Linked DNA regions of Homo sapiens: region 1 is linked to region 2. A link means that fine-mapping ties the variant in region 2 to the expression of a gene that starts in the linked region. Tissue or cell type: lung. Region 2 holds a variant in brackets; the other region holds the start of a gene. All regions are shown on one strand. Distances are from middle to middle.

Region 1 (4,166 bases), 67 kb before region 2:
TCTTGGACAAGCACCGCCATTTTAAGTTCCCCTTGATTAAAAACCGCCTAAATCCAGCCCCAGAAACATCAGCCTAATGGCTAATGTCAGCATGACCATAAACCACAAATAACACTTCTGACCAGAAACTTTCCAACCCTGAGATAAACCCCACTCTGATCAGAAATATGCCTCCCCTCCAACCAGAGACATTACACCCCTGACAATAAAACTCTCCTCCACCCAGAAACATTCCAAGTCTACAATATGCTCTCCCTCCCTAAACCACTAAATACCTTTAGTCTGTAAGAGAGAACACTCCTGACCGAAATCGGCCAGAAGCCCCTCTCAGGTTTATTCTCCAAAATAAACCTGTCTCTGTTAAGCTGCTTTTTGTGTTTCTTTCTTTAACTCTTACAGTTTCCATCTCCAGGCTCAAGAAAGTTTACTTTCTCATTTCTTCTTCCCTCAAATGCACTAGAATAGATCCTTACTTAGGGCCTTTGAATTAGTGTTATCCTTTTCCTGGAATGCTCTATGCTCTGATTTTTGCGTCTGTTATTCAAATCGCTGCTAAAATATCTCCTCCTTAAAAGGGCATCCCCTTTACTAGCCACTCAGTCACCATCACCATCACGTCACTTATTGTAACTTCTTTGCATACAGCTTAAAACCAACAGATTTTTTTTCTTTTCACCCTCAGATAAGTTCCCTAGAATCTACACTACTTGTCTTCATCATTGTTCAATCAACAGCCTAGAGTAGTGTTTGTTGAATGAAGAAATGAACAAACGAATGCACCCTTTCTTCCGTGACCCTCTCCTCTGAACAGGGCAAAACTTAACTCATAACGAGGATACACTCAAAAATGTCTTTCTTATTGCCAGGTGTTTCCACTCTTGAGGAACAGATGCCCTTTAGGAGACAGGGCAATTTGACTGGACTGGCCCTTCCGATTTTAGGTGAAAATAATCACCATAACAGCTTTTCATCTCTGGCTAGGCTTCCCAGTGACCAAAGCTTTACTTTCCGATTTCCATACCACGTAAAGACATCAGGGTGAGCACTAGGGCCCTGAGAACCCTGGAAGCTACTTCTTGGCTGGGATAGGGCTGGTTGCCCGGTGCGCTGTGAGTGGTCCTCCCCGGAGATGCTGGGAGAAGGGGCGGAGCCATCAGAAAGGATGAGCCTTCCTTGGGCCTTCGGATCTGGTGGGGCTGCCACTTTGGGAAGGGCCCCGGGCTTCGGAAGAAAGCAAAACTAGCCTTGTGGCGAAGAAGGAGCCCAGCTGGCCCCAGGCTGTTAAGACTAAGGGGTCGAGGGAAAAGAGGCAGAGCCTGAAACCAAATCTGCGGAGCAAGCCAAGGCCTGGGGACTTGCCAGAGGGAAGGGTTAAGCCGTTTCCAAGGCAACGGACCAGGAAGCGCGCAAGACGTCCGCCGCAGGTTCGTAGGTCGCCCTCGAATTTAAAGCTCCCAAGGCTGAGTGGGTCCCGGCCAATGGAGAGGCCCCCTTTAAGTCATGTGACCAGCGGGGCTGCCCCGCGGGCTGCTCCGCGGGCTGCACTGGAGCACGTGGGAAGGCTTTTTTTCCTGTTCCTTCTTTCCCTTTTTAAACGCCCACCCACTTTTGCGCGGGCTCGGCCGCGGAATTTTTCTCGCGAGAGGCGCGCTGCCCTCTCGCGAGAGAGAGTGGGAGGCGTGGAGAGTAGGCGGTGTTGCGGGCCGGAGCTGCGGCGGCGGCGGCGGCGGCGGAAGCCGAGGGGTGGGCAGGGCGGGGGCGGGCCGCGGGGCTGGGAGGGGGAGGGCTGGGGGTCAGCGCGGGAGGGGGCCAGCTTGCTTGCCCGGCTCGCTCACGGGTCGTTGAGGCCGGTGACATGTCTGTGAGCTGCGGAGGCTGCGGCCCCCAGGTGAGCCGGGCGCCGACGTGCTCGCCGCGGAGGCTGCGTTTAGATGGGGTGGCGGCGGGTGTGCGGCCGGCATGGATGGAGCGGCCCGGCTCCGGCGCTCCAGCCCCTCCGCCTGCCGCTGGTCCCCCTTCTGGCTTCGGGGCCGCCCGAGAGCTGCGCCTTCGCATGGCGGAGGGAGGAGGGCGGGAGGAGCGCGGCCGAAGGAGGAAACTCACCGCACCGGGCCCAGAGTAGAGGGAGGTGCTGGGTCTCGAGACGCGTCTTCCTGGGGTCCCAAGTGTGGCGGTGGAGCTGCCGCCCCTTTTAATGACAGGCTGTTTCCATCCCCGGGGTGGTCTTCAGAGACGGCCCCCCGGGTGCGTGGTGCGCGTGCTTAGTGTGTGTTCGTGGTGTGCGCACAGGAACATTTGCAGCGGTTGGGAGGACGTTGCACTTTGTTCCCGAACAGCATCCTTCACTGTCAGACCCCCGGAGCCTTGGAAGCAGGCGCTGCTCAGATCTTGTAAACGGAAGGCGTCAAGGGGCTCCTCAGAGTATTGATATTTGGATTTGCTGTCAAATACTCTCCTAGGCTGTTAATGGCTTAAGGCTGGCCATAAAGTACCCCGAATGGATTGAGTATACTGCTGTTAATCCAGGCATCTAAGCTGCTTTATAAAAAATATGTAGATGTAACCGAAGTATTAAAAAGTGACAATGACAGTAAAAGCTAACATTTTTTCTCTTCCCCATATTACCAGCTTTCATTTTTTTTCTCTGCTTTGTCTGTCTTCTAAAACCATATAAAGTTGGATGTGGTTTAGCTTTAGATGTTAAGGAGTTTCATGGTGAGAAAGACTGCTGAGATACATACCTAATAGCTTTAGTACAAACTGGAGTTAATTCCTGTTCTCTTTTCAGCTTTTCAATCGCTTGCAAAATGCTCGTTTTGCTTAGCTGCTTCCCACTGTTTTAGAAATGTCATGTCGATTGTTATTTTGTTATGTCTGAAAATACTCAAAATATGGAGTACTAAGAAAAAATGGGGTATCAGTAATGCACAGATATATTTTTTTTAATGTCATCATTTTAGGATGGCAGCCCAGTGCCTGGCATGATTGGTGTCAGTTAAAATAGTGCAATTGAATGATTTTTTTTTTTTTTGAAAAACACATTTACTTTTTCAAACGGTACCCTGATTATTCATTTTTTCTTGTCGTTGTTCCTCCTGACAAAACTGACCCAGGGGTGGACAGTGAATGTCACTATTGTAGCTGTAACAGTAATTTATGAAAGGTCAAAGAATGTAAGGAAATCAGGGAAGAAGTGGGTTCCCAAGCTGAGCTAGAGACTAATGTATGTACCCACATAACTGCAGTATCGACAATATTGATAAGGGCCTAGCAGTGGACTCCTAGGCCAGTGATATTTTGCAGTTGTTGAGGATATGGGAAGTTGCCTAAGACATGGAACCATAGTGAGAAATTCTCTAGCCTTCTCTAGCCCCCTGAACTCCAGGGATAAGTCTAGAAGCTGAAGAAGTCCTCTTTTGCCTTTAGAGGCTGGAAAAAATACGGTACTTTTAATTTTTTTATTTTTTAATTTTAGGAACTTACTGTCTGGAAAAGGAACTCAAACCAATTTGGACAATATATTAAAGGCCGTTTTAAGAGAAAATGCCAGTTGTAAATAGGTAGAGGAATTCTGTCTATACGTGACAAAAATGTGAAAGACTTAGAAAATATCTCTTTGTGAATGGGCAGAGGAGACCAGTGTTGATTAGAAAAAATTCCTTCTTACTCCATCTTAGCAAACTAATTTTCAGAAGTAGAAAAATAAATTTTTTGGCTGGTCTTCATAACCTTTTGGCAAGGGTTTCAAACTTGTAGGGCGTGTGGTGTTTGGTTTTTCAAAAGTAATTGAAGTAACTTTGGATAGGGTAACTGATTTTGTTTTTTTTCCTGTCTTGTGGTCTGCATTTTATTAATCAACTACCTGGAAGGATTGAAGGGTGAGGACAGGTCGAGAAAAGCTTTAAGTTAAGCCTGGGCATGAGTTAAGGGTCAATGAGCTGGTAATATGGGGAAGAGAAAGAAAAATGCTTTATCAGTTTAAAAACAGCCTGGAAAGATCCAAGTGTCTCGATTCTCCCAGTCATCCTTACATATAAAAGTTTATTAAAAAAATACTTCTGGGCCAGGCTTGGTGCCTTACACTTGTAATCCCAGGACTTTAGGAGGCTGAGGCGGGTGGATCACTTGAGACCAGGAGTTCAAGACCAGCCTGGCCAACATGGAAA
Region 2 (4,351 bases):
TGGCACATACTCAGAAATTGTTTGCAGAGCATCCATTTGATGTTGCTGACCCTAGAAAGTTCTTTGACAAGGCACCAAAGGGTGGAAAATTAGTCTTGAAACAATTGCCCTGAAGGAACTTGAAACTGTGGTCTAACAGAAAACAGGATGCAACAACTGGGTCTTTTCCCGTTTGACCAGTATTTGTTGCCCCACCTTACACCTCATGGACACGGGCATTTACCATTTCCAGGAAAGAAAGATCTCAAAAAGAATTACAAACCAAAAGGCAGCCTTGGGTATCAGAGCCCAAATACCAAGAAGCATTCATGTAATGATTTCAGTTTGGCCTCTTTCTTATCTCGGTGCCAATTTCTCAGCAATGCAGAGAAAAATGACTTGAGCTCAGAATTAGGAGATGAACTTTCCATTTGAAATGTGCGTTCTCCTCTGACTTGCTCCATGAACAAGTTAGCTTCCCTGCAGTCCCCTTCATCATGCCTGCTAAGAGGCAAGTGTTTACATTTATCAGGACTGAGCGCTACGAGGTGAGGATTAATTAGTGACTCTACTTAGAATTATTTTTAAAATATCAAGAATAATTTGCTTCCATAACAAATTATCCTGGCTTGGGATTCTGGGACAGGATTTGGGATTCTGATCAGTTGCTTCCCTAACAGCCTGACACTGACATTTGCAGAATCTGTTGTGGTTTAACAGGTATTATAAGTTCAAATATCATATTTCAGAGTGTCTGCTATGGTTACAGGTAACTAAAGGTTACAGTTTTCCCCCCATATGATGTCATTTGCTTAACTCAAATGAACTTTGTGCCATTAAAAATGGGGAAACACAATTTATTTCAATGCCATTTGAGTCTGTTTTGAGGTATTGCGGACGGAAATATCCTGGTTACTGGGTTTGGATGATTCATGCAGTAGAGCAGTCTGAGGAATAAACTTTATCTTGTCCTCATCTTTATTTTTGTTTTCTATATGGAAACTAATCATTTGAGGTTGGCAACATGGATTTGGGCTAAATTTCTTCAATGAATTTTTTTCTACGTTTCCCTACTTCAGACCAAAAATCTCCAACCCTAGGCTGTTTTCCAAAAGCAAACCTGCTCATGAGCTCTCTGACAGAGTGCTAGCCTGTCGGAAATTACAGTAAGTCTCCTTCTGAGGTTGGTTAGGCTGAGAATTCATTGTATTTTGGTTAAAAACAGAGTGTTACAATTTGATCCTGGGAGCAAGAAAGAATTAGTAATGAAAACATTGTTGGTGGAGACTGTTGCCTGGTACACAGGCTGAACTCATTTGTCTGGCCCCCGGTACGGGTGGCCCATGTGAAAATACACACATACACACACACACACACACAGACACACACCACCCATCTGTTACGTTTTTCCTGATGCTTCAGGAAAGTCTGCAAATTAAGACAAATGATATTATCTGGGAGTAACTGATCATCTTTTCACTATGAAAATGTCATATTCATAGGAAATGAATAACACACCTGCCAAAAATCAGGTCGCCTAAATGAAGGGATCAAGGGATTGAATACCCATGGAGAAAATAAGACAGACACAATCCAACTGTTCTATACTAGTTGACAGCAACCTATTCTAATGATATGGTTAAGATTTATAATGGCCATATAGGTTTACCTTCTCCAACCAAACTATTTAAATAATTCCACAAGTCTCCTATTTAATATTGAAGACCATCTCCTTAGCTAAAATTATTATGCTTTAATTGACCATATATAAATATCGGAGGGTTTTGGAGAGTACCATTAGACCATGCACAACCAAGCACAGTTGGATTGAGCCTTGAAGATGTGCATGGTTCCTCCCGCCCGTGCTCTTCCTGGTGAATGAGTAGCTTTTTTCCCTGCACTAATCTGTTCAGTTTGAGGGCTGCTGGAAGCACTACCTTTTATTCTCTTTTCATTTTCTTTACTTCACTAGTTCACAGAGCTGGAGGCCACAGGACTGTTTGTTACATCATCACTGCTTTAAAAGCTTATTTTTGTGAATGCGATTGTACTTGGGGGTTGTCAAAACCTGTGGAAATGTGGCCTTTGGTGACCGGCCATGGCATAATATGACAACATTTCTGGAGTAGTCCAGCACTGGGAATGGTACCCTTGGGTCAGGCAAGTAGGAGGCAGTCATTTTTGTCTCTGGAGCTGCTGGCACTCAAGCGTAGAGGAGGTAGACATTTCAATGGCCAGTTGCTTTTGTATTTAAACAAATAGATCCTGGATTGTAGATTTTTAGAAAACTGCAGATGCAACCTGCAACAGAATCACCTGGTTAGCTTACTCCCCTACCAGCTGACGAGTCTTAGATCAGATATACTGAAGCACAGCCTCTGGGGATGGGGCACTCAGGAATCCAAATTTCTTTAAATAAACTTTAAATTTTAGAATAGTTTCAGATTTGCAAAAAAGTTGTAAAAATAGTACAAAGAGTTCCCATATACCTCATACCCAGTTTTCCTTATTAATATCTTACATTAGGATACATATAATATACATTTGTACAAATGTGCAATGTAAGTAATATAAAATGTACATTTGTACGATATACGTTATCTGTATCATAATGTAATGTACAATGTAAATCCTAATGAAGGATACAGGTAATGTACTTTGT[G/A]ATGTACAAATAACATCTTACATTAGAATGCAGATAATGTACATCTCCCCCACTCGTTTATTTATTTGATCATTTTTTTATGTCAGTATGGACTCATGAATACCAAGTTATATTTCAGTACCACATTATAAATGTACATTATCTGTATCTTAATGTAAGATATTAATAAGGAAAGCTAGGTGTGAGGTATATGGGAATGCTTTGTACTAGTTTTAAAATTTTTTTGCAAATCTGAATGTATGAATGTACATTAGGTGCATTTGTCACAATCTCATGATTAACCAAAGTCAATACTCTATGACCTGATGTCCTTTTTCTGTAAGATTCCATCCAGGATGCCACGTTACATTTAATTGTTACGTCTCCATAGGCTCCTCTTGGCTGAGACAGTTTCTCAGACTCTCCTTGTTTTCAGTGACCTTTGATAGTTTTGAAGGGTCCTGGAGAGTATTTTGTAGAATGTTCCTTAGTTGAATTGTTTGATGTTTTTCTCATGTTTTAACTGAGGTTATGGGTTTCTGGAAGAAAGATCACAGAGGCAAAGTGCCCTTCTCATCACGTTGCATCAGTGGCACCCTCAACGCAACTCACAGTTGATGTTCACCTTGATGACCTGGCTGAGGTAGTCTTGACAGGTTTTTCTACTGTAAAGTGATTCTTTTTTCCACCTTTTCATACTTTACTCTTTGGAGGGGAGTCACTGTGGATAGCCCGCACTTAAGGAGTGGGAGTTGTACTCCACCTCCCTGAGGGGGAGTAGCTACATACATGATGGAATTCTTCTGTCTAGAGATTTATCTATTCTCCCCCACTTGTTTATTTATATGTTCATTTATTTATGTCAGTATAGACTCATGAATATCAAGTTATACTCCAGTGCTACTTTGTTAATCAGATTGTTCCAGCTTTGTCCATTGGGAACTCTTTCAGTGGGATCCCATGTCTCTTTGATGTATCCCCTTTCTTGTGATGTTTTTGGGAGCCCTTCCGGCACTTTCTGCCACTACAAGATGCTCCAGGAATTAACATTTTTGACCAGCTCTATCATACTGAAAAAAACCAAGATTTATCATTTTCGGCCATCAAGACCAGAAATTTTAAATGTCCCGCTTATTGTTGGATGTGGAACAAAGCTGTCAAAAGAAAAATCACACTAAAGAATGTGTATGTATCTTCAAAATCTCTCTGTTTATTTGGTAACATCTATAGCCCAGGCACGTACAGAGAGGCAGTTATTTAAATCCAATCAAGAGACTAAGAAGTTCAAGAGATCTATTGTATAACATGGTAGCTATAGTTAATAACAATGTATTGTACACTTGAAAATTGTCGAAAGAGCAGATTTTAGGTGTTATCACAAAAATCATAATGAGAAGTACATGAGGTGATGCATAAGTTAATTAGTTTGATCTAGCCATCCACATGTATATACATTTTAAAACATCAGGTTGTACACCATAGACACATATACTTTTTGTCAATTTAAAAAAGTAGTGATTTTTTTTTAAAGAGACTAAAAATTGAGGAGAATCATCTATGAAACATTTTCCTGGAAACCACAAGGCTTTTGGGCCACAGGCACCTCACTGGGTGTGGATAACAATTGTTGAGTTAGCCCAGCCCCTATCAAAGAGGATCTTAAGCCATATCAACCACTTCTTAGGATTTTCTGGTGACTTCTGAGAGAGGAAGAGTCAGAAACACCCATGG

Evidence for each region. PIP is the estimated chance that this variant, and not a neighbour inherited with it, causes the effect.
Region 1: AKAP11 starts here. The variant in region 2 is fine-mapped to the expression of AKAP11 in lung (TOPMed, PIP 0.94).

The regions. Positions count from the first base shown.
Region 1 is chr13:42,270,341-42,274,506 of GRCh38, forward strand. AKAP11 (A-kinase anchoring protein 11) reads left to right here and starts at 1,812. Exons shown (of 13, transcript NM_016248.4): 1 at 1,812-1,888. RefSeq lists an enhancer at 1,002-1,181 and a silencer at 1,722-2,071.
Region 2 is chr13:42,337,156-42,341,506 of GRCh38, forward strand. No RefSeq gene overlaps it. Among named protein-coding and RNA genes, the nearest start is that of AKAP11, 67 kb to the left of the region's middle. The variant G/A (reference allele first, on the strand shown) is at 2,642.